Regions from separate parts of the Homo sapiens genome. Here region 2 is linked to region 1. Evidence: fine-mapped QTL for protein levels in blood plasma. A gene starts in region 1. The other region holds a variant in brackets. All regions are shown on one strand. Distances are between the middles of the regions. Region 1 holds the start of WFIKKN1 (WAP, follistatin/kazal, immunoglobulin, kunitz and netrin domain containing 1). Region 2 holds the start of LOC124903618 (a long non-coding RNA gene).

Region 1 (9,938 bases):
CTGCAGCATCGCGGCCACCACGCAAGCCCAGGGCCTGACCAACGTGAAGGCCCCGCTACACCTGGACGTGACGTGGGGCTGGGAGCACTGGGGCGGGATCCTGCCACAGTCGCTGGACCTGTTGCTCTGCATCAACATGGCCCATGTCAGCCCCCTGCGCTGCACGGAGGTCTGTGGGGAGCCCAGCATGGGTGTCTGCCGTGGCACCACTCACCCTGCATGGGGGCAGCTGGGATGCCAGATTTGCCCCCATCACAGTCGGGGTGAGGGTCTCCAGCCTCCCCCATCACAGTCGGGGTGAGGGTCTCCAGCCTCCCCCATCACAGTCGGGGTGAGGGTCTCCAGCCTCCCCCATCACAGTCGGGGTGAGGGTCTCCAGCCTCAGGGCCTGGCTTCTGTTGGGGGCAGCACCTCACTGCCGTCCTGTTCCTACTCACCAGGGGCTCTTCAGAGCAGCAGGACACCTGCTCAAACCCAGGGCCCTGCTCATCACCTACGGGGTGAGTGGGCCTGTCCACGGCGGGCCTCCCGCTCCCAGTCCTAGCTGCTGTCTCCTGCCCTGCTGAGAGTCCTCCCTCCTGGGCTCCCTGCCCCCCGCCCAGCCACCAGCACGGCCTCCCCTCCACTTCCAGTCTGTACCCCTCCCTGGGTCATCTGCCAGCCTCCCTACCCCCTTGCCCACCAGGCTGGCCTTGGCTGACTCCCTCTTGGGGACAGGGAGGGGGTGCCCTTTCATTCTCCAAACCCCAGCCTGCAAGTCTGTCCCAGGCTCTCTGGGAAATACCCCGACCTTGGTCCAGTGGGCTGTGTCCCCATGCCCACAGCCCTATGCCATCAATGGGAAGATCTCCCCCCAGAGCAACGTGGACTTTGACCTGATGCTCAGATGCAGGTCAGAGCTAGAGGCGGGGGGTCTGGCTCAGGTGGCAGGTGGCTTGGGTGGCACCCCCCAGGCCATGACTCCATCTCCCCACCCTCTGCAGGAACCCAGAATGGGGGCTTCGGGACACAGCCCTCCTGGAGGACCTGGGAAAGGCCAGTGGCCTGCTCCTGGAGAGGATGGTAGGTGGGGGAGCGGGGGCCCAGGCAACCTCTCTAGGGGTTGAGGGCCGTCCTCCAGCAAAGTGTTTCTCCAGGTGGACATGCCAGCCAACAACAAATGCCTGATCTTCCGGAAAAACTAAGCCCCTCCTTCACCCCCGCACACCTGCATCCCTGCCGGAGGCTCTGTGAGGCACGAACCCTGCCTCCCTAGGCCGGACCTTGTGGACGACAGCCCCACCCAGTCTGTGCTCTCAGCCGCTGGCCGAAGGGCCCAGCCTGCTCAGAATAAAGCATGTCCTGCTGCCGGCTTGCTGGTGTCTGCCCCACCTCCTCCTAGGAGCACCTTGTGAGGTTGGGTGGGAGACGGGGTCTCCTGTGGGGTCAAGGGCTTGGGACGTCCTGATCCTTGCTGCTGGAGCTCGGGCAGTGGGATTGGGGCCGAGACAGCTGCTGAGGCAGGATGGAGCTGGTTGGGGATGCAGGGGCGGACAGGCACTCCCTGGTGACCTTGTACCAAAGCCCAAGCCCCAGTGGGTGTCAAGGCCCCAGCGGAAACTGGCTGGGCATGGGGCACCTGGAAGGATGAGGGTCGCCCGACCAGCAGCAGCAAGCCAGGAGGTCTGAGGCACAGGGAGTGCGTTTATTCACCAGGACGGGGTGGCGCAGGCCCCTGCGGGGGCTAGTCCTGGAAGCGGTTGAGCAGCTCGCAGGCCTGCTTCTCCAGCAGCTCCAAGATCTTCTTGACGCGCTTCTCGCTGGCGGCGCGGACGTAGCTGCCGGCGTCCAGCACGGCCACGCCATCGCGCACCTCACCCATGATGACCAGCGGCCCGTCGCCCGCCGTCATGTTGGGGCAGGGGCAGGCCCAGTCCATGCCACTCAGCGTCACCTCCAGGTACTTGGTGCCCAAGAACTTGAGGCCCATCTTGTCATCCTTGAGCACGTCCTCGAGCGCCACGCGGGCGATGCCGCCGGCGGCCTCGGGCTCCTCCAGCACCTCCGTGAGCCGCCCCACGATGGCGAAGTCGCTGCGGCACAGGCTCAGCGCCAGCTTGCTCCGGAGGCGGCAGGCGCGGCAGGGCGGTGTGCGCGGCACGGGGCAGGCATCCTCGCAGCTCTCGCGGCTGTGGAAGTTGTTGCCGTTGCCCTCGCAGCCACCGTACACGAAGGGATGGCACTGCTGCAGCAGCGGGCTGTAGGCCCAGCGCGGCTCCCAGCCCCGGCAGGGGCCCTGCACGGCAGGCAGCACGCAGGCGTCGCCGGGGCCGCGGGCACAGGCCTGCTGGCATGCCTCGTAGGTCTCAAAGCCGCGGGCCGCCCCATCACAGCCACGGGCCGGGAAGGTCATGCAGCCGCCCCGCTGCGGGTCGTAGTGCCAGAGGACAAGGTGTGGGGAAGTGGGGCCCGTGCAGGCCTGCACATCCGGCAGGCACTCGGCCGGGGCTGGGATGCTGGGGGCTGCGTCCCTGGCCGGCTCTCGCTGGACCACAGAGAGTGGGAAGTCAGCCCGCAGCAGCCCAGCAGCGTTGCGCGCGGTGCAGGTGTACAGGCCGGCGTCTTCGGGCCGCGCGTTGTAGAGCACCAGCTGCCCGATGCTGGTGACCACCACGTTGCCATACATCTGATCAGGGCGCATGATCAGGTTCTCTCGCTGGTGACTCTGCTTCTCCCAGGTCACAGCAGGCGGCGGGCGGCCGCTGACGTCGCAGTGGAGGCTGGCCGTACCCCCAACCTGCACCGCCTGTGGGGAGGGGCTGCTGTACAGGGCAGGAGGCACGGGCGCGGCCCCAGGTGTGGGGCGGGCAGTGGTCTCCGGCGGCCCCGGGCTGCTGGGCGGCCAGCTGAGCACGTGCTTGCAGGGCACGATGTGGAGGTGCAGGCCCCGCAGGCAGGCCTCGGCGTCCATATAGCAGCGGTTGTAGTAGGTGAGGCCGTCCGAGGCGCAGGTGAAGCTGGGCTCCTTCTCACAGCGGTCGCGGCAGCGGCACACGGGCTGCCCGTCCCAGATGTCGCAGTCCGAGCCCTGCTGTGGGCACACAAAGCCCTCGCAGGAGGCCGCTGTCGTCGGCGCAGCTGGGCTGCCGGGGAAGCGTGCTGCCACGCAGCTGTGCAGTCCACACACGTTGATGCAGCACTTCTCAGCAGCCGCACAGTCCTGGGGATGGGGGACACTTAGGTGGGAGCCCCAATGCCCCCCGCCCCGGGGCTCTGGCCTGGCCCCTGCAAGGGGAGGCCCAGGTGGGGTAGCAGGGAGCCCCCCGCTCTGTGGCTGCCTCCCCGGGGACTCAGTGTCCTTTCCATCCTGTGTGAGGAGCCACCTCGCCAGAGGTGCCACCTGGCTTACCTTCCAGAATCCTCACACCCACAAGCAAGTTCCGTTATTCTTTACGTTGTACAGACGAGGAAACTGAGGCCCAAGGAGGGCGTACAGTGCTCAGGACCACCCAGCAGGTGGTGCGGGCCAGGACAAAGGCTGGACATCGGCTGCAGCACCCCCACCACCATCTGCACTGGTCCCGGATGGAAGGAGGGTGGGAGGACAGGGAGGACAGTGGATGGAAGGAGAGGGTGGGAGGAGAGGATGGAAGGAGAGGGTGGGAGGAGAGGATGGAAGGAGAGGCAGTGACGGGGTGGGAGAAGAGGATGGAAGAAGTGGATGGGAGGAGTGGATGGGAGGAGTGGATGGGAGGAGAGGGTGGGAGGAGAGGCAGTGAAGGGGTGGGAGAAGTGGATGGGAGGAGAGGATGGAAGGAGAGGCAATGACGGGGTGAGAGAAGAGGATGGAAAAAGTGGATGGGAGGAGTGGATAGGAGAGGATGGAAGGAGAGGCAGTGATGGGGTGGGAGAAGAGGATGGAAGAAGTGGATGGGAGGAGTGGATAGGAGAGGATGGAAGGAGAGGCAGTGACGGGGTGGGAGAAGAGGATGGAAGAAGTGGATGGGAGGAGTGGATGGGAGGAGAGGGTGGGAGGAGAGGATGGAAGGAGAGGCAGTGAAGGGGTGGGAGAAGTGGATGGGAGGAGAGGGTGGGAGGAGAGGGTGGGAGGAGAGGCAGTGACGGGGTGGGGGTGGTCGCCGAGGATGATGGTGCCCCAGGGTGGAGGCACATGGGGAGCATGAAAGCTGGAGTGGGGAGGGCTCTTATTCTTAAGACAAATGAGGGCAACGATGGGGGTGTCTCTGGGCCCCTTAAGGGGCCCAGACCCAGACCCCCCAGAAGTCTGGGGAGCCCAGGCAGAAGGTGGCACCTCCAGCAGGGTCTTGCCCAGGCTGGCTGCTCTGAGCCCCAGGACCCCGGCCCGACCACACTCACCTGGTCCCTGCTACACTCGCGCTCACAGGTGCTCTGGGCGTCCACCCACAGGTTGGGGCTGAGCTGGTTGGGGCACACGCCCGGGTGGCTCCCCAGCCCTGGCAGCAAGCCAGCCCCCGAGGTCAGCCGGAGGAGGAGCAGGAGCGGCAGGAGTGGACGTAGGGCGGGCATGAGGGCCGCCGAGCCAGGGGGCCGGGGGGTGTGGCCACCAGCCCCTCCTCGGGCTCCACAGAGCCCAGCTTCCTGCAGGCATCCACCCTCCGGGCCTGTGGTCGGTGCCCCCACCAGGACCCCGGGGCTCCCTTTTGCCCCTGAGGCTGAAGCCTGCAGCAGATGCTTGTCCTGACACCCCTGCTGGGTGGGTAACGGGGTCTCCAAGTTCTCAGAGGCCGTCTGTGTGACGCTGGTTCCTCTCCAGCTTCAGCCTGGCCCCTCTGTCTGAACCGTGCGGGGGCTCCCAGGCCCTGGTCAGCACAGGGCAGAGGGGAGGAGGTTGGGGAGGGGCCAGAGGCCCATGAGCACAGAGCCACTGGCCATGAGGGTCACCGGGGCGGGGAAGGGCTGGCTCTGGCTGGAGAGGGGGAGGGGAGGGGACCCTGTAACCTGAACCCCTTCGTCCACCCCTGGGCTGAGATCAATCTCCTTGACGACCCTCAGTAGGGTGGGGGCAGGGCCAGCAGATCCCAGCTTTTGTCCCTGGCGCCCTCTGGACCCCAGGCTCCTATGCCATGGGGGTGGCAGGCACGGGCCCTCCCCGCAGAGCGTGGCTGACCACAGCCTGGGTCCCCCGGGCCAGGTCCAGGCTGGCAACGGTCACGTGCGGCCGAGGGCTTCACTCCGCTCCGAGGTTCCTTCCCCCCTCCATGGCTGTTTCAGGGGCACAGGGGTCTGCAGGACGCCCAGCACAGCCCGGCCTCCTCTGCTCTGCTGCCCCTGTTGGAGTGGGGCCCAACCCGGCAGGACTGCATTCCCAGAGACCCCATCCCTGAAACCAGGCAGCGGGCTTGGGGCTCAGGCCTGTCCCCAAGGCGGGGCAGGTGCAGCAGGAAGAGGCCTGTGGCCACCACAAGCATAAGAACAGCCCGAAACGCTGATGCCGGAGCCTCGGCCCACGCACCGTGTAGCCCTGGACGTGGCTCCGCGTGGGATGGCACCGCCCGAGGGAAGGCCAAGTGCAAGGGCGTCTGCAGCTGAAAAGAGCAAGTGTCCCAGGGCACCAGAGCCTTGCCCTGCCCCAGCCCCCCGTCGGCGGGGCACACATCCCCAGGCTGGCTCCTCTTCGTTGGGGAGGGCAGGGGGCTGGCCTGCCTGGTGCAGCAGGACAAAAGGCTGCCTGGAATCTACCCTTCCAAACCCTCTGTGGCTCCAGATGTCTGGGGCCTCAGGGAGTGGTTCTCTTGAGACCGGATGGGAGTGTCCCCCTGACCCTGTGTCTGACCTCTGACCCAGGAGGCAGGGTAACAGGAGCCTGGTCTGGTCAGAATGAGACCCGGAGACGGCTCCAGGCGCCAGTCCCTGCTCTACAAGGAGACTGGGGGTGGGCCCTGATAGCGTGGGGGTGGGGGTAGCTAGGCCAGACCCAGCAGCAGGCGGCTGGGCTGGAGCTGCCAGGGAGGGGCTTAAGGCCCGGACATGCCCACGAAACAGCACAGGGAGGCACCTGAGCCAGAGGCTGTGGTCTGGTCCCTGTACCAACTGGAGTGCCCCGTTCCAGCTCAGCTGTGACCTCCGGGGCGTCCACACCCCCCTGGGCCGGGCATAGCAGACACCAGATTGGCCAGCGTGCAGGCGGCTCTGCTGAGCGGGCCGACTGACTGGAGGACCTGGCCCTCTGGAGTCCTGCTGCTGTTGGGGACAGTCCGCCCCAGGCCATCTGCTGCCGGGGACTGTGAGCGAGGGCTCAGCACAGCCCAGCTGGGATTCCATCCACCGGGAAGAGGAGAATGGCCGTGACCAGGCCCAGCTGCTCCAGCCCAGCTCCAGCCCTCACTTTGAGGCGAACCCAGCCAACCGCGGCAGGTCAGCCCGGTCAGCGCAGGGAACAGCAGGCAAAACAAAGGCCAGAGGTCAGTTTGCCGGGTATGAAGCAGCACTGGCCCCTGGCACGGGGCACCGCCACTGCCAGACCCACCCCACCAGACACAGCAAAACGTGGGGACCACAGCTGAATTACATTTACTGTACAAAGAACGGTTCGGAGAGAACCAGGAATGGCGGAGTGTCTAACAGCAGCGCGGGTAGTGTTGATGCCGTGAATGCAGGACCATCCAGGTCCTCAAAGTCTGTGAGGTTTGTTCATAATCCCAAACAAGGGCCCTGCTGGCAGCAACAGGACAGGTGGGGCCAGGACAGGGAAGCTGGAGCAGGAGGCCAGTGTCTTTGGGGGCTGTGGCAGGGCCGCCTGCCTGGGGTTCCCTTACTCATCTGGTAGTTCATGCAGGCCACGGCCCTCATCTCCCAGGAACGGGCCATGGGGCGAGTCCACTGGTGCCCAGTAACACCCTCCGTGGGACCACCTTGGGAAGCATGTGCCGCGGAGTCCACCACGGGGGGTCCTGGGTCCCGGGAGGGCTCCTTCTGCGTGCTGGCCATGTCGTGCCGCACGGCCTGAGGACAGGAGGTAGAGGTGAGCACCAGTGCTGTGGGCAGGCCCAGGCGATGGTGACCGTGCAGAGGGGCTGCTGGGGCAGGCATGGGCAGAAGCACTGGGTGGAGGAGCGGCCAATGGCTTCAGGAGAGAGGTGGCCGGCCCTGCGTGCCTGGGGCTCAGCATGAGCGCCGGGCTGGTGGGCCTTTGAGGAGGGGCCTAGCCTCCCGAGGCCCCCAGGTGGACGTGGACGTGGACGAGGTGGTTCCAGGCACGTCCCTAAGAAGGTCAGGATGGTTCTGATGCCGTGCAACCTCACAGGAGAGCTGCAGCTGTGGGGACCCCAGGGCCAGCGACAGAAGCTGCCGAGAACAGGAGGCTGCACGCAGGTGCCCGGGGTCTGCACCGCTGCCCATCAAGTATTCCTAAGTCTACAGATAGCTCTGCACTCTCCAGGGTGGGCGAGATGATCTGAGTTTTGAGTGGTCAATGTCCCCGAAGGTGTCACATCACAGCAGGAAGGTTCTCATCCCCACGTGGGGAGGGATTTGGGGAGCAACAAAAATGTGGGCTGCCAGGTGCACCTCCTTTCTCCCCTCTCCTGAGTGCTGCTTGGGCTCTGACCACAGGACCACACCCTCCATCCCGTGGGAGCCAGGGCCCCGGTCACCCAAGCTTCCAGAGGGAGCACCGGCCCTGTCTGCTCCCCCGGCCTCTGGGCAGCCCCGCCACTCGCAGCGCATGAATTCACAGGATGCCTTGCCATCGCGGCCGCGAGTCCCCTCTCGAGGAGTCCCAAGTGCGTCCCCGCAGCTGGCGTGGCCATGAAGTCACCAGTGCACCACCACCGGGCCACACCCAGGCTTCCCTGAAGGCCCCTTAAAAATGTACAAAAAAGTGAAGTGTTCTCTATATAAATAAGAAAGGCCAACCAGGCTCCCCGCCGGTCAAGCCCAGGCAGCTGGGGAGGCCCGGCTTGTTTCCGACCAAGATTCCCGGAAGCACCAGCAGCCCAGCCGCGCCCCCTCCTCCCGCCTGCCGCGCTTGGTCCGTGCATGCTCCTCCTCGCACCCGGCTCAGGTGTGAGGAAAGCCCGGCGCTTCTGAGGCAGCTGTGTGGACAGTCTCCACGTAGGCGGCACTGGCCTGGCGTCCAGCCAGGAGTGTCCAGCTCGAGCCCTCCTGGCATCTGCACAGGCGGCCCCGCCCATCCCCGCTAGGAGATCTTGCAGTTACTCCGCGAGCAGTTCTGGGGGGGGCTCTGGGGTGGACGGATGGACTTGGACCTCTTGAGGCTGTTGCCCTTGCTGCCGCCGCCCCCGGCCCCGCTGGCCAGGGAGTAGGAACGGCCGTGCATCATGACCGCGTTCATGCCGTTGGCCATCGAGAAGGACTTGAGGTGGCTCTTGATGGTGACGGGCAGTGGAAGCTTGTCGATGAGGTGCACGGGGGTGCAGGAGACGATGGCCCGGCAGCAGAGGTCCTGCAGGCTGAACACTGTGGGGCAGAGGGGGTGTCAGACCATGGGGCTGTGGGGGAGGAGGCCCTGTGCAGGGAGACCTGAGGTGCCCAAGAGAAGCCTGGCGGGGTCTCCACACTCCTAGAGGTGTTCCCAGGCTGGGCTCCTGGAGGACCTGGACGCCCAAACTTCTCTGCCCAGCACAGATGTGTCCACTGGCACCCCATCCCCTGCCTTGCTCCCTAAAGCCAGGCACGCTGGGCGGTGCTGCTGCGGGGCTTCCAGAGGGCACTCTGCCCAGTTCCTGGCCTGGATGATGCAGCTCCCAGTGTGAGGGCTGCGTGATCTGGCCCTTCAAGCGTCCTGACTCATCCCCTAGAGCGGGGGAGCGCGCGTCCTGACTCATTCCCTAGAGCACTCGCTCATTCTTTTGTTTTGTTTTTTGAGACGGGTCTCGCTCTGTCGCCAGGCTGGAGTGCCGTGGCACGATCTCCGCTCACTGCAACCTCCGCCTCCTGGGTTCAAGCGATTCTCCTGCCTCAGCCTCCCGAATAGCTGGGACTACAGGTGTGCGTCACCACGCCCGGTTAATTTTTGTATTTTTAGTAGAGACGGGGTTTCACCGTGTTGGCCAGGCTGGTCTCGAAGTCCTGACCTCAGGTGATCCACCTGCTGTGGCCTCCCAAAGTGCTGGGATTACAGGAGTGAGCCACCGTGCCAGGCCCGTGCTTCCTCTTAAGAAGGACAGTGACACCGTCAGCCACCCTCTCTCTGTTCAGCAGTGAACCCTGCTGGGAGGCACCACAAAATCAACAGTACCACCTCCCTGAGGGGGGCTTCACGGGAGCCTCTGATCAAGGATGTGGCTACCCAGGAAGAGCAGATGACACAACACAAAGCTGCAGGCACGGCTCCTGTGCTCCCCTGACAGCAGGACCAGCCCCGGAACCAGGAAGGAGCGAGCACACACTGCCCACACCAGCAATGCCAGGGACCCACAGGCATGGCAGAGTGCAGCGGCCACGGCGGCACCCTGAGGGGGGGTCATCAGCTGCTCCTGTGCCCCCCAGTGCTGCCGCCTCTCCCCCGAGGCTGCTCTTACCAAGTCACTGACCTGCCGCCGGCCGAGCCCCTACTGCGCGTTGCCAAGGGACCTGCCTGAACCTCCCTCACTGGCCCCTGGCCCCCCTCAGCCTCCATGTGATCAGGGCAGCCCAGGTTCGGGGACCTCAGGGCTGGCCGGCGCCCGCCCACCCACCTCGGTTGGGCCTCCAGATCTTCTCCATGCCGTGCCGCATGAGCACGATGCGGGATAGCTCCGTGAAGGACTCGATGACGTTGAAGTTGCACAGGGGGCTGACCTCAAAGAAGGTCATGCAGTTCTTCTCTGCGTACGCGCGGGCCTGCTCCGTCGGGACCTGCCGCTTGAAGGCCAGGTGCAGCCGGTTTCCAACCAAGATCCGGGGGACTCCGGGTGCATGCTGGGGGCACAGAACTCAGCAGACGCACAAACGCAGGGTGCCACCCACCCCTCAGC
Region 2 (15,737 bases), 14 kb after region 1:
ATTTGCTGCTGGGGGAGGTGGAGAGACTGGGGAGTGGGCCACCAAAGCGTACAACACAGCCCACTCTCCCTAGTGGCAACCTCCCGCATGGCAACCTCCCGCATGGCAAGCCCACAACTCAGAAGTAACTGAGGATGTGTGTCACAGTGGCGCTGATAACAACGACAAGCCAGACACAAATTAAATGTCCAGCCTCAGGGGACAGCTGAGTAAGCGGCAGTGAAATGTACCGTGCAGATGCTGAAGACAGCAGCAGTGCATGTAAAAGCGTGCATGCTGGCCAAGGAGAGATGTGCAACCCAGGTGAGGTAAGAACGCAGGTCCCAGCACTGCGGATGGCATTTTCTTTTTTTTTGAAACAGGGTCTCACTCTGTCAGCCAGGCTGGGGTTCATGCAGTGGCACGATCATGGCTCACTGCAGCCTGATATTCTGAGCCTCAGCTTCCTGAGTGGCTGGGAATACAGGTGTGAACCACCACATCTGGCTAAGTTTTTTTAAACATTTTTTAGAGATGGGATCTTGCTATGTTGCCCAGGCTGGTCTTGAACCCCTGGCCTCAAGTGATCCTCCTGCCTCAACTTCCTAAAGTGCTGGGATCAGAGGTGTGAGCCACTGTGCCCAGCCCAGCATGATTTCTTTTTTTTTTTTTTTTGAGACGGAGTCTCACTCTGTCGCCCAGGCTGGAGTGCAGCCGCACGATCTCCGCTTCCGGGTTCACGCCATTCTCCTGCCTCAGTCTCCTGAGTAGCTGGGACTACAGGCGCCCGCCACCATGCCCGGCTAATTTTTTTGTATTTTTTTTTAGTAGAGACAGGGTTTCACCGTGTTAGCCAGGATGGTCTTGATCTCCTGACCTCCCGATCTGCCCACCTCGGCCTCCCAAAGTGCTGGGATGACAGGCGTGAGCCACCGCGCCCGGCCCAGCATGATTTTTAAAAAATAAAAGTATGAACACACAACACATTACACTGAAGAAGTTTATATGGACATAAAACAAATGCTAAAAGGCTGGAGAGGGGTAACTTTTGATGCTGACCTGTTTTCTGTGGCAAACACCCCTATTCGCATGACACTGAAAACTCTAGAAAGAGAGCAGAAGGCCCGCCTCCCGGCTGATGGGCTGCCTCAGGCTCCAAGTGTGCTGTGACGCGGGGGGCCCTGGCCACACCTCCCGGCTGCTGCCCTGAGCGGGCCCCCACTTCCTGGGATGGCCATGTCTGAGGAGTAGGGGTTACGGGCAGGGGCGATGGCACAGGAGGACCCGGAGGCTTGCTCCGGCGTGGGTCACAGTGAGGCCGCAGGGACCCAAATGACCACGGAGTGAGAAACCAAAAGGAGACTCTCGGTGACCAGCAGCCGCCTAACGAACGGCACCCTAAGCACCCTCAGCTGCGTGTCTCAAGGGGCAGAGCACGGGACAAACAGACTCTTCCACTGCCTTCTGTTTTCTAAAACTGATCTGATTTTTAAAAAACTAGCGACTTCGGCCAGGCGCCGTGGCTCACGCCTGCGATCCCAGCACTTTGGGAGGCCGAGGCAGGCGGATCACGAGGTCAAGAGATGGAGACCATCCTGGCCAACATGGTGAAACCCCGTCTCTACTAAAAATACAAAAATTAGCTGGACGCGGTGGTGCACACCTAGTTCTAGCTACTCGGGAGCCTGAGGCAGGAGAATGGCGTGAACCCGGGAGGCGGAGGTTGCAGTGAGCCGAGATCGCGCCACGGCACTCCAGCCTGGCGACAGAGCCAGACCGTGTCTCAAAAAACAAAACAAAAGAACGAGCGAGTGCTCTAGGGGATGAGTCAGGACGCGCGCTCGCCCTGCTCTAGGCCCCTCTAGGAGCCGCCCTGACAGTCAGTTTCCTCAGCGTCTACAGACGTGTCCACGGTGCCGCTCATGCCTCGCGGGCGGGGTCAAGGGGGTGGAGGCACTTGGCGCTGCTCCCACCCGCACGCCCTGAGCTCAGGCCCAGCACCCCCGCCTGCTCGTGAACTGGTACTGCGCCAGCTCTTGGGTAACGGTGGCAATATGCATCTGAGCACGTTTACACCTTTTTTTGATCAACTCGACCTACACGATAAATTCCCAGAAGTAGAACTGCTGGGCCTAAGAGTGGGTGTCCTTTTTGCTATCATTTTTTACTGAGCTGTAACTTACAAAGCACAAAATACAAAGATCCGAGGTTTGAACATTTTGATGAATTTTGACAAACACATGCCCCTTCCACCCATGTGGCTGAAGCTCCCAAGGTACAGCCAGCGAGAGTGAAGCCCTCCTCCTGCATCCCTGCACCCAGGCTCTGCCCAGGAGCAACTGACATGTAAAATGGGAGCTACTGCCAAGCCGCGCCCACTCACATCCACCCGCCCACCTGTGTGCCGACAAGCCAGCAGCACGTGTGCCTCCCGTACCACGCTCCACATAAACCCCCTCTCAGGGAAACAAATCCACACCTTTGTCCTGAAGCAGACATGGCACTTGGCCACAGCCTTCCTGGCACTAAGCCCGCTGACCCCAAATTCTCAGCTAAACAGGATGGCACATCCCGTCAGCCACACTGCAGTTACAAGGAGCCTACCCCACCCTCCACACACCAAGGGACCTGCACCTGGGTGACCCACTCATCCCACCAGCGGGTTGTGGCACCCGCTTCTGAGAGGGGCCGTCTCAGATCACAGCAACAGAATATGCAAACACGACCATGAAGTCTAGGGAGCCCGGCCTTCGGCGGCACGTGAAGGGCCTCGCGGGAAGAGCCGCGGGACTGCTGCTGTGTGACAGGTGACGGCAGCGGGGAGTGGCCGGTGGCCTTTGCTGGTGCCATCTGCAAGACCCAGGCCGCGGGGACCTTCCAGGCCTCTCCACTCTCTAACGGAGGGAGGCAGAGTGACAAATCCCGGCTGGGACAGACAGTCCTTGCTAGTCTGTGTCTCATCAGGGGCGGCGGGAGAAACCCTGCTGCAAACCTGGGCTCTGCACCTCGGCTGGATGCACCCGCACCTCACCGCTGCTCACCAGGCAGGAGAGACACAGGACAGGGCTGGGCTCCCGGGGTGGCCCAAATGCTCAGTCACGGCGGTCAGAGGCCCGCCTGGAGACTCAGGTGCTTCTCCCGGGGCAAGGAAGCACCTGGCACCCTCAACCCAGGACCAACATGTGCACCTGGGTCTGTAACCTGCTCCTCGCATGTGGAAAATGACAGCTCAGAATTTCCAGAGTTAACAAGACAAAACAAAGACATAACCAGTTGTGCCAGATGCTTTGGAAAGAACACGGAGATGATAACAGAGCTTGCTTTCCAGGACCTCAGCCTGGCAAATGCAGAGCTTATGAACTGCTTTTTTCTTTTTTAGTTCTCATGCAGCTGAACAGAAATCACGACTGTACTGGCCTCGTGTCCCACAGACCTCCCTGTGTGGGAGCTGGGATGCCTGCGGTGGAGCCCGTCGGGGGGGGTGGCTGGGATGCCCGCGGTGGAGCCCGTCGGCGGGGGGCTGGGATGCCCGCGGTGGAGCCCGTCGGCGGGGGGCTGGGATGCCCGCGGTGGAGCCCGTCGGCGGGGGGCTGGGATGCCCGCGGTGGAGCCCATCGGGGGGGGCTGGGATGCCCGCGGTGGAGCCCGTCGGGGGGGGGCTGGGATGCCCGCGGTGGAGCCCGTCGGGGGGGGCTGGGATGCCCGCAGTGGAGCCTGTCAGGTTCAGCCTCCCTGCTGCCTTTTCCAGTATCTCCCCAACAACCCTTTATTGTCATCCAACATAACTGCGCCCCATATTTTTTAATACCAAAATAGTATATGTTTATTGCAGAAAAATCACGAAATACTTAAAAGCAAAAGGAAGACAAGAAGGCATTTTTGTAGATGTAAATCACCCACACAGCTCCTCCTTTTTTTTTGAGATGGAGTTTCACTCGTCGCCCAGGTTGGCGTGCAATGGCACAATCTCGGCTCACTGCAACCTCCACCTCCTGGGTTCAAGCGATTCTCCTGCCTCAGCCTCCTAAGTAGCTGGGATTATAAGCGCCCGCCACCATGCTCGGCTAATTTTTGTATTTTTCGTAGAGATGGGGTTTCACCATGTTGGTCAGGTTGGTCTCCAACTCTTGACCTCGTGATCTGTCTGCCTTGGCCTCCCAAAGTGCTGGGATTACAGGCGTGAACCACCGCACCAGCCCCAACTCCTCTTTCAATAGCAGGCAGGGCCCATGGAATGCATCCTTGAGCCTGCCCGTCTTCCACCTGCCTGCTCCACGAATCACGGCCATGTTGCTCCAGTTCTCACAGGGATGGCACGGAGCCTGCAGGCCCTTCTGCTCCCATGAGGGAGCTGCCAACATCTCCGAGGGAACTCCCAGGACAGGGTGCGACCCAGCCCGCCCTGGCGTCCTTCCCACCCACCGCCAGCAGGTAGAAGACATCAGATCCAACACCGACTACACTTCAGTGTAGAAATGGAAGGAAATGAGCTTGCCATGGGACGAAGCTCCAGTGTCCATCCCCCTCGCACCTGGGCAGCTTCCTGCCCAGAGCGGACCCACCTGAGCCAGAAGCTGCATGGCACAGACCTGAACCTTCCCCC[A/C]AGAAGGATCCAGACCCAGACCCAGGCGGCCTCCCTGGGCCCACATGGGGGGCTCCAGGCTCACGAACTGGCCCCGGAGGGGCTCTCCTGGCTCTTCCAGAACTCTTAGGGGCATCACAGACAGGACAGACCCGCTCAAATCCCTCCCACTGAAGCAGCAACAACAGTGGCCATGACAGGTCTGTTTACATGGGCTTCACGTCCTTGCCCTCCTTCCGGCCTCACATTCGCCAGCAGATCCAGTCAGCACAAAAGCGTGCTTGGGGGCCCAGAGGAGACAGAAACGAGGGTGGCCAAGCGCACCCACCATACCTGCACACACACTGCACACATGGCCCCAGTGCCCCCGCCAGACCTGTGCACATGGCTGCACACACACATGGCCCTGAGTGCACCCACTACACCTGTGCACACACACAGCTCCAAGTACACCACACCTGCACACACACTGCACACATGGCCCCAGTGCCCCCGCCAGACCTGTGCACATGCCTGCACACACACATGGCCCTGAGTGCACCCACTACACCTGTGCACACACACAGCTCCAAGTACACCACACCTGAGCACACACTGCACACATGGCCCCAGTGCCCCCGCCAGACCTGTGCACATGCCTGCACACACACATGGCCGAGTGCACCCACTACACCTGTGCACACACACAGCTCCAAGTACACCACACCTGCACACACTGCACACATGGCCCCAGTGCGTCCGCCAGACCTGTGCAAATGCCTGCACACACATGGCCCTGAGTGCACCCACTACACCTGTGCACACACACAGCTCCAAGTACACACCTGAGCACACACTGCACACATGGCCCCAGTGCCCCCGCCAGACCTGTGCACATGCCTGCACATACACATGGCCGAGTGCACCCACTACACCTGTGCACACACACAGCTCCAAGTACACCACACCTGCACACACTGCACACATGGCCCCAGTGCGTCCGCCAGACCTGTGCACATGCCTGCACACACATGGCCCTGAGTGCACCCACTACACCTGTGCACACACACAGCTCCAAGTACACCACACCTGCGCACACACTGCACACATGGCCCCAGTGCCCCCGCCAGACCTGTGCACATGGCTGCACACACACATGGCCCTGAGTGCACCCACTACACCTGTGCACACACACAGCTCCAAGTACACCCACTGCGCCTGTACTCCCAGCTACTGGGGAGGCTGAGGCAGGAGAATCGCTTGAACCCGGGAGGGGGAGGCTGCAGTGAGCCGAGACTGTGCCACTGTACTCCAGCCTGGGTGACAGAGTGAGTCTCTGTCTCAAAACAAACAAATAAACAAACCAATGTGAGAATATCCTTATAAAGAAAGAAAGTCCTTGGGAGTTTGACAGGACAACAACTCACATTCAGAAAGAATCAGGAGAAACATCCTTTGAAAAGCAATGGAAAGAGCGGTGCTGGTCTTACCTGAGCGCCCCTGGAGTAGGACCTGAAGATGGTGCAGAACCGGCCCTGGCCCGACGTGTCCCTGAAACATACGGGGAGGGGAGGGGCCGGGACTGTGGTCCCTGTGAGAGGCTCACCTCCTTCCCTCCTCTGCCGACCCACCTGGATGTCCTGAGGGGAGCGGGGCGGCCAGGACAGGTGCCAATGAGGCTGTGCTAAGCGGCTTTGTCTGCACAGGTCACAGCAGCCTGGCGCCGTGCCGCTGAGCCAGGCAGGCAGCAGAAGGGGCCCCCGCCCACCTGGGGAGTGAGCAAGCTCCTCACATGAGCCTGGGAGCTCCAGGAGACTGTCCTGCCAGGCTGGGGAACCCCAACCCTGTGGACATTCACGTCTCATCAACGCTGACGTTCTGGGAAATGCTTTTTTTTTTTTCTTTTTTGAGACGGAGTCTCATTCTGTCACCCAGGCTGGAGTGCAGTGGTGCAATCTCAGCTCACTGCAACTTCTGCCTCCCGGGTTCAAGTGATTCTACTGCCTCAGCCTCCTGAGTGGCTGGGACTACAGGCGCCCGCCACCACACCTGGCTAATTTTTGTATTTTTAGTAGAGATGGCGTTTCACCATGTTGGCCAGGCTTGTCTTGGACTCCTGACCTCAGGTGATCCTCCTGCCTCGGCCTCCCAAAGTGCTGGGATGACAGGCGTGAGCCACCACACCCCGCTGGGAAATGCTTTTTAAGGTGAAGCCGACAGAAGGGGAGGGAAGGGGCTCACAGCCACCACGGAATCAGGTTTTCCGGGGCAGGAGGGGAGCCGCGATCTCTAGGGACACAGTGTCCCAGACTGTCTTTTTCCTGTTGGAGTAAAATCCATTCTATGTTTAAACAGGGGCTGTGTAAGTGGCTCTTCCAAGTGAAATGCAAACAGGACGCCTTCCTGTTTCTCTAAGGGTTCTGTTCTCCCTTCGGCATTTGTGTCCTCACCCAGGAACTGAAGTGCCGCAGCCCCAACTCACCAGAGCTCCAGCTTCACGCGCCGGCCGTCCAGCAGGATGGTGGTGGTCTTGTAGTCGATCCCTGCGAGGAAGCACAGGGCGCTGAGGGGACGCGCCACTCCTGGAGCGAGCGCCCGCGAGACCAGCCTCGGCCACTGGCCTCCCAGGGCCAAGACCCACGCGGAAGTGGAGAAGCAGCTCCCCCACACTCAGCCAGTGGGGCAGGGGGAAATCTCGGGGCTCTGGCCCAGCAACCCAGGCCTGCCCACTTCTGCACACGGGCCACGGGCAGGGCGGGGCAGGGCAGGGCAGGAGCGTGGTCCATACAGTGTCAGGCCATCGGGCCCCACAGCCTAGCAGGCCAGCCTCTCCATGGGCACGGCTTGCCTGGAATGGGGCCTCCGCCTGTGGCCCGCGCTGGGTGCAAGGCACAGGGCCTCTCCCTCAGAGGGCATTGGGCAAAGGCAGGGCGTGGACTCCAGCGTGCCTGGAGAAAGGGCAGTGCCTTTATTTCCACCCTGACCTACTTCGTATGCATTTTGAAGTTGAATTCTCCAAGGCGAATGTATTTCCAAGTCTCGGCTTACTGCAGCCCAGGAACTGCCAAGGTTGGTGTTAGGGAGGGCCAAACAAGTTTAAAAATGCTGCTTCTGGCCGGGCGCGGTGGCTCACGCCTGTAATCCCAGCACTTTGGGAGGCCGAGGCGGGCGGATCATGAGGTCGGGAGTTTGAGAGCAGCCTGACCAACACAGTGAAACCCCGTCTCTACTAAAAATACAAAAAATTAGCCAGGTGTGGTGGTGGGCACCTTTAATCCCAGCTACTCGGGAGGCTGAGGCAGGAGAATCACTTGAAGCTGGGAGGTGGAGGTTGCAGTGAGCCGAGATCATGTCACTGCACTCCTGCCTGGGTGACAGTACTCAATAAATAAATAAATAAATAAATAAATAAATAAAATGCTGCTTCTCCGGACTCTGGACTGACCTCAGACAGCCACCAGCCTGCCTGCCACATTGGTATTTTTTTTTTTTTTTGAGACAGAGTCTTGCTCAGTCACCCAGGCTGGAGTGCAGTGGTGCGATCTCTGCTCACTGCAAGCTCCGTCTCCCGGGTTCACGCCATTATCTAGCCTCAGCCTGCTGAGTAGCTGAACTACAGGCGCCCGCCACCATGCCCGGATAATTTTTTGTATTTTTAGTAGAGGTGGGGTTTCACCGTGTTAGCCAGGATGGTCTCGATCTCCTGACCTCATGATCCACCCGCCTCAGCCTCCCAAAGTGCTAGGATTACAGGCGTGAGCCACTGCACCCGGCCTTTTTTTCTTTTTTGAGATGGAGTCTCACTCTGTCGCCCAGGCTGCAGTGCAGTGCCACAATCTCGGGTCACTACAACCTCCACCTCCCGGGTTCAAGCGATTCTCCTGCCTCAGCCTCCCAAGTAGCTGGGATTACAGGTGCCCACCACCACAGCCGGCTAATTTTTATAATTTTAGTAGAGACGGGGTTTTGCCACGTTGGCTAAGCTGGTCACAAATTCCTGACCTCAGGTGATTCGCCCGCCTTGGCCTCCCAAAGTGCTGGGATTACAGGTGTGAGCCACCGTGCCCGGCCCACATCACATCATTACTTTTTATTTCCTTACAGTTTTATAGGAAAAGGTCAGTCCAAGAGAAACTGAAAGGAGCAGACAGTTCTGGACACTTAACGCAGGCACGACATCTTAAACAGGCTCTGGGCCCTCTGGAAACTTTCCAGAAGCTTCTACCTTTAGGGCTCAGCCCCTTCCCCCACCTTAGAAACACCATTCACGTTTTGTCTTTTTATGACACTTTCTCCAAGGGGCTTGGAAACGGGCACTTTTTAAACATAAGCGACGCCCTCCCACGGAGTGCACCTGCCCAGTGGGCTTGTGTGTGTGTCTGTGCACATCTGTCTCTCCGTGCGGGCCCAGCCCTGCAAGCCAGCCATGCGGTCTCTCTGCCTACGGTGCCCTTCTTCAGGCATCAGCGCTTCCACCCACACCGTCCTTCTGCCTGACCAACCCCTACATGTACATCAAAGGCTGTTCTCATGCATCGAAGGACACCATCAATGGACAGAAAAATGCAACCCAGAGATGGAGGGAAATGTCTGCAGATCACACGTCTCCTAGAGACTGATCTCTAGACTCTACAAATAACTCCAACTCAACAACAGAAAACCAAACGTCCCAATTTTAGGATGGACGGATGGTCTCCCTCGGGTCCTCGTTTCCAAGACAAGAAGGAACAATGGTTGTGCCAAAAGGGCCACGGCTGTGAGCAGCCCATGACTGCAGGAGCTGCACCCAATGTGTACCCAGGGACAACGCCATTAAGCAGTTCATCAGGATGCGGTAGAGTTAGGCAGTTCACTATCGGGACGAGGTAAAGTTTGGCAGTTCACCATCGGGATGCGGCTGAGTTAGCAGTTCACCACTGGGACGAGGTAGAGTTTGGCAGTTCACCGTCGGGACGAGGTAGAGTTTGGCAGTTCACCGTCGGGATGCGGCAGAGTTAGCAGTTCACCATCAGGATGTGGTAGAGTTAGGCAGTTCACCATTGGGACGAGGTAGAGTTAGGCAGTTCACCATCGGGACGAGGTAAAGTTTGGCAGTTCACCATCGGGATACGGCAGAGTTAGCAGTTCACCATCGGGATGTGGTAGAGTTAGGCAGTTCACCATCGGGATGCGGTAGAGTTAGGCAGTTCACCATCGGGACGAGGTTTAGGCAGTTCACCATCGGGACGAGGTAAAGTTTGGCAGTTCACCATCGGGATGCGGCAGAGTTAGCAGTTCACCATCGGGATGTGGTAGAGTTAGGCAGTTCACCATCGGGATGCGGTAGAGTTAGGCAGTTCACCATCGGGACGAGGTTTAGGCAGTTCACCATCGGGACGAGGTAAAGTTTGGCAGTTCACCATCGGGATGCGGCAGAGTTAGCAGTTCACCATCGGGATGTGGCAGAGTTAGCAGTTCACCATCGGGATGTGGTAGAGTTAGGCAGTTCACCATCGGGACGAGGTAGAGTTAGGCAGTTCACCATCGGGATGCGGCAGAGTTAGCAGTTCACCATAGGGATGCGGTAGAGTTCGGCAGTTCACCATCGGGATGCGGTAGTTAGCAGTTCACCATCGGGATGCGGTAGAGTTTGGCAGTTCACCATCGGGATGCGGTAGAGTTCGGCAGTTCACCATCGGGATACGGCAGAGTTAGCAGTTCACCATCGGGACGCGGTAGAGTTAGGCAGTTCACCATCTGGATGCAGTAGAGGCCGCAGCCTTGCAGACATTTTGGAAGCATCTGCGCCGACTGTGTGCTTCCCGAGCTGCGTGTGAAGCTGCGTCACTGCCCCAGTGGTGCCCTTCACAGCAAGCCAGTCAGGAATCCTGCTCCTCAAGTCCAGGGCTATGCACGTCACCCAAGTCTAGACCTGGGTGCTGCCCACGACCCCCACCAAGGCCCCAAGACCATGCATTCCACCTGGGTCTAGACCTGGGTGTTGCCCACGACTCCCACTAAGACCCACATAAGGAGCTGAGTCCTTAAGGACTAAAGACAAACTATCCTCTGGGGAAAAAAATACGGAAATTATACTTTAAAAAAAGGGCAAAGGACTTGAATAGACATTTCCCCAAAGAAGAAAAACCGACGACCAAGAAGCAGTGAAAAGGCATTCCACATCATCGTTCAGCAGAGAAACCCATCCAAGCCACCACCGCACCACGATCCAGCCTCGCAGAAAAGGGCAACTGGCAGCAAGTGCCAGCCGGCGTGCAGAAGCCAGGCCCTCCATCCGCTGAGTGTGCTGCGTGCTGCTGCACTGTGCTCTTGATTCTACCGGCCAGGGCGGCAGTCCTGCTCTTGATTCTACAGGCGAGGGCGGCAGTCCCTGCTCTTCAATCTAAAGACGAGGGCAGCTGTCCCCTGCTCTTGATTCTACAGGCGAGGGCGGCTGTCCCTGCTCTTGATTCTACAAGCAAGGGCAGCTGTCCCTGCTCTTGATGCTACAGGCCAGGGCGGCTGTCCCTGCTCTTGATGCTACAGGCCAGGGCGGCTGTCCCTGCTGATTCTACAGGTGAGGGCGGCTGTCCCTGCTCTTGATTCTACAGGCCAGGGCGGCTGTCCCTGCTCTTGATTCTACAGGCCAGGGCGGCTGTCCCTTGCTCTTGATTCTACAGGCCAGGGCGGCTGTCCCTTGCTCTTGATGCTACAGGCCAGGGCGGCTGTCCCTGCTCTTGATTCTACAGGCAAAGGCGGCTGTCCCTTGCTCTTGATTCTACAGGCCAGGGCGGCTGTCCCTGCTCTTGATTCTACAGGCCAGGGCGGCTGTCCCGTGCTCTTGATTCTACAGGCCAGGGCGGCTGTCCCGTGCTCTTGATTCTACAGGCCAGGGCGGCTGTCCCTGCTCTTGATTCTACAGGCGAAGGCGGCTGTCCCTTGCTCTTGATTCTACAGGCCAGGGCGGCTGTCCCTGCTCTTGATTCTACAGGCCAGGGCGGCTGTCCCTGCTCTTGATTCTACAGGCCAGGGCGGCTGTCCCTGCTCTTGATTCTACAGGCCAGGGCGGCTGTCCCTTGCTCTTGATGCTACAGGCCAGGGCAGCTGTCCCTGCTCTTGATTCTACAGGCAAAGGCGGCTGTCCCTTGCTCTTGATTCTACAGGCCAGGGCGGCTGTCCCTGCTCTTGATTCTACAGGCCAGGGCGGCTGTCCCGTGCTCTTGATTCTACAGGCCAGGGCGGCTGTCCCGTGCTCTTGATTCTACAGGCCAGGGCGGCTGTCCCGTGCTCTTGATTCTACAGGCCAGGGCGGCTGTCCCTGCTCTTGATTCTACAGGCGAAGGCGGCTGTCCCTTGCTCTTGATTCTACAGGCCAGGGCGGCTGTCCCTGCTCTTGAATCTACAGGCCAGGGCGGCTGTCCCTGCTCTTGATTCTACAGGCCAGGGCGGCTGTCCCTGCTCTTGATTCTACAGGCCAGGGCGGCTGTCCCTGCTCTTGATTCTACAGGCCAGGGCGGCTGTCCCTGCTCTTGATTCTACAGGCCAGGGCGGCTGTCCCTGCTCTTGATTCTACAGGCCAGGGCGGCTGTCCCTGCTCTTGATTCTACAGGCCAGGGCGGCTGTCCCTGCTCTTGATTCTACAGGCCAGGGCGGCTGTCCCTGCTCTTGATTCTACAGGCCAGGGCGGCTGTCCCTTGCTCTTGATGCTACAGGCCAGGGCGGCTGTCCCTGCTCTTGATTCTACAGGCAAAGGCGGCTGTCCCTTGCTCTTGATTCTACAGGCCAGGGCGGCTGTCCCTTGCTCTTGATTCTACAGGCCAGGGCGGCTGTCCCTGCTCTTGATTCTACAGGCCAGGGCGGCTGTCCCGTGCTCTTGATTCTACAGGCCAGGGCGGCTGTCCCGTGCTCTTGATTCTACAGGCCAGGGCGGCTGTCCCTGCTCTTGATTCTACAGGCGAAGGCGGCTGTCCCTTGCTCTTGATTCTACAGGCCAGGGCGGCTGTCCCTGCTCTTGAATCTACAGGCCAGGGCGGCTGTCCCTGCTCTTGATTCTACAGGCCAGGGCGGCTGTCCCTGCTCTTGATTCTACAGGCCAGGGCGGCTGTCTCTGCTCTTGATTCTACAGGCCAGGGCGGCTGTCCCTGCTCTTGATTCTACAGGCCAGGGCGGCTGTCCCGTGCACACTCACAAGTGAAACAACACTCTTCAGGGAGGCACCGCGCTCAGGCCGTCAACACCCTTCCCGCACCTCCCTCCTCCGGTGGTTCTGTCAAGCAGGGACACAGGGACGGAGGGGCCTTGGTCATTTTGGTCCTGGCTGTTGAAGCCCCCATGAGGCTGACCTGAGAGGCCAAAGTTGGACACCACGATTGCCACAAAGGCCATAGCTGCTTCTCCTTGACGGTCACCTCGACGTGCCAATGTGGCCAAGCAGGCAGGCGCCAGCAACACCCACAAGACAGATGCTGATGGCCCGGGGACTCCCCTAGGCCACCCCTAGATGGCGCCATGGCCCAGGGCCACCAGGAGCCATGGCTGCTGCAAAAGGAACGGGGATGCCGGGAAAAGCCTGGGGACCACGTCACCCACCCACAGAGCCGGGGCCTCTAGAGCACCTTGCTCTTGAATCAGAGGCTGCTCTGGGATGCTCCTCCCGCTGGACGTCTGCGTCCCACCCATCCTGCAGGCTCCGCACCCGGTTGCCCACGGTGCGCGTCAGAACAGGATTCTCAGCAACAGTGAAGAGGAAAAGTGTAAGAAGACTATGAAACAACGTCCCCATGGATACCATTTAGACACAAACAGCGGCCTGTTCTCTAAGCACAGTCAGCCGAGTGTCTTGTTCCCAGCAAGCCACAGCCACTGACCACATGGAGCCCTCTGACCACACAGGGCCCCAGGATGTCACTCTGGAAAAGGTCTGGACTCTCAGAGGGACAGGTGTCAGGATCCTGGGGAGGGGGCCCTTGGCCTGGAAGGTCTCAATTATCCAGGCAGGGTCAGGGCAAGCAGGTGACGGGGTGGGGCAGGGCGGGGTAGAGGGAGGAGCTCCTGGAGGCACAGAGCAGTGACCCAGGAGAGGCCTGGAGCCCGCGCTGGGGGACGGCGCAGGGGCAGGGGCAGTGGGCTCCGGCTGCAGAGCTCAACACTACCCCATAAGGGGGTCCCTAGGCATCAGCTGTGACATATTCTCTTGGTGTGCTGTTCATTTTTACCTCCTGTTGAAATGTCTTTTCAAAAATAAGCTAAGCTAATACCCGGCTCAGTGAAAAGGCAAGGGCGCCAGTGAAGGTCAGCTGCTCCGTGCAGGCCCACTGAGGCCTCACGCAGCACCAGCAACTCCTGCCACCCTTCCCCCTGCTCTCCTCCTCATCTGCTGGGTGCCACAGGCCTTGCTCACCACCTCAGGTTTACTGTTCCCAATAACCCTCTTGTTCATCTAGCCCCAGCCAGGCGCTGCCTCTCAGCCGACCTGAACACAACCCCATGAGACACACGGCACTGTCCTGGTCAGAGCCGCTCCACAGGACAGGCGCTCTGACCTCAGGGGACAGAGGCAGGGAGGTCAGAACACCTGTCCTGCCACCAGAGCAAAGCCACCGGCGCCTCGGCTGCTGGTTCTGTCTACCGCACAGGGTGCCGCTTCCCCACCAGCTACAGGAGACCAAGTCTCAGCAAGCGGACTCCCAGCTGGGCTGGTATGAGGCTACATCTGGCCCTGGCCTGGCACCCGAGCCACCAGGCTGGTGCCGTTCACATCCCCACCCTCCCGTGGGACCCATTCTGTTTCCTAAAACCTTTTAAGGCATGGTCTTTGACCACATTGCTCTGGGTGGTCTTTTTCGTACTCTGTGGCCCTTGCAGTCTGGAGACACATCCTGACGTGCCTCAGCTCCCCCCTCCAGGCACACAGCTCCCGCCCTCCATCCTGAGCCGCGCCAGCCAGGGTGACCTCTGCAGGGACTGCCCAGTTGTTTTTTAATCTCTTTTTGTTCTATTTTCTGGGAGATGTCCTCAACTTTCTTTTCTAGCCCTTCTATGGCTTTTTTAAAATGTGCTGCTTATTTATAATTTCTAAAAGCTCCTTCCGGTGCTCTGAGCGTTCCCCTCTGGCAGCGTCTGGCTCTTCATTCGTGGATGCGGTATCTCTGATGACGCCAATGGTAAGATGTCCTTCCCTGAGCTCTTTTCCTGCCTGTCTGGGTCTTTCCTCACATTCTGGTGACCCTCAAGGACAGACCCTAGCCAGGAAGCTGGTGACTCTGGCTTCTAAGTTGGGGCTCTCGGCGGCGTCTCGTGGCCGCTTCTTTTGGGCTGACGGTTATCCTGCCATCATCCTGCCACGGGCTCCCATCTGCATATCAGGAGGCCCTGAGTTCCCAGGCAAGGAGGGGCTTGCTCAGGCCACCCTGTCCCCTGCCACCCTGTCCCCCACCATCCCCAGTGGTGTCTGCTGTCCACGACTCAATTTTCCCAGAGAATAAACCTCCTGTGCTCCCTGCTGGGAACCACACCAGGCACTGCCCTGACCTCCCCTTCCCCTCACATGGCATTCCAAGCAGATCGCATGGCCCCTCACCCAGCCGTGGCAGCACCGCTGTTCCCAAACCATCAAACCTCTCTCACCTATCAGTCCACGTTTTTATTTTTATTTTTTGAGAAGGTGTCTCGTTCTGTCACCCAGGCTGGAGTGCAGTGGTGAGGCCAAGGCTCACTGCAGCCTCCAACTCCTAGGCTCACGTGCTCCTCATAGCTCAGCCTCCTGAGTAGCTGGGACTACAGGTGTGCACCACCACACCTGGCTAATTTTGTATCTTTTGTACAGTCAGGGGTCTCGCTGTGTTGCCCAGGCTGGTCTTGAGCTCCTGAGCTCAAGCAATCTGCCCACCTTGACCTCCCAAAGTGCTGGGATGACAGGTATGAGCCGCCACACAATTGTAGCACAATCTTGGCTCATGGCAACCTCCACCTTCTGGGTTCAAGTGATTCTTGTGCCTCTGCCTCCCAAGGAGTGGGGACTACAGGTGCCCGCCACCATGCCCAGCTAATTTTTTTTGCATTTTTTGTAGAGATGGGGTTTCACCATGTTGGCTAGGCTTGTCTTGAACTCCTGACCTCAAGTGATCTGCCTGCCTCGGCCTCCTAAAGTGCTGGGATTACAGGCGTGAGCCACCATGGCCAGCCGAGTTTCATTCTTTTCAGGATGGTAAAGGGAATG

The links. PIP is the chance, under the fine-mapping model, that this variant and not a neighbour inherited with it causes the effect. Protein levels are from the aptamer-based SomaScan assay of Sun 2018.
Region 2: its variant is fine-mapped to the plasma level of the WFIKKN1 protein (Sun 2018, PIP 0.95).

The regions. Positions count from the first base shown.
Region 1 is chr16:625,843-635,780 of GRCh38, reverse strand. WFIKKN1 (WAP, follistatin/kazal, immunoglobulin, kunitz and netrin domain containing 1) reads right to left here and starts at 4,796. Exons shown (of 2, transcript NM_053284.3): 1 at 4,357-4,796; 2 at 1,664-3,199. The coding sequence starts at 4,527. The coding sequence ends at 1,724. It overlaps RAB40C (RAB40C, member RAS oncogene family), which reads right to left. Exons shown (of 6, transcript NM_021168.5): 5 at 9,660-9,882; 6 at 6,513-8,439. The coding sequence ends at 8,159. METTL26 (methyltransferase like 26) reads left to right here. Exons shown (of 6, transcript NM_032366.5): 2 at 7-169; 3 at 441-500; 4 at 825-892; 5 at 984-1,062; 6 at 1,137-1,351. The coding sequence ends at 1,184. RefSeq lists enhancers at 1-536, 4,703-5,437, 5,618-5,912, 5,438-6,171, 7,641-8,374 and a silencer at 8,004-8,254.
Region 2 is chr16:608,554-624,290 of GRCh38, reverse strand. It overlaps RAB40C (RAB40C, member RAS oncogene family), which reads right to left. Exons shown (of 6, transcript NM_021168.5): 2 at 7,023-7,083; 3 at 6,031-6,091. It overlaps LOC124903618 (a long non-coding RNA gene), which reads left to right and starts at 8,027. Exons shown (of 2, transcript XR_007064934.1): 1 at 8,027-13,437; 2 at 14,601-15,737. RefSeq lists enhancers at 1,837-2,590, 12,895-13,024. The variant A/C (reference allele first, on the strand shown) is at 4,583.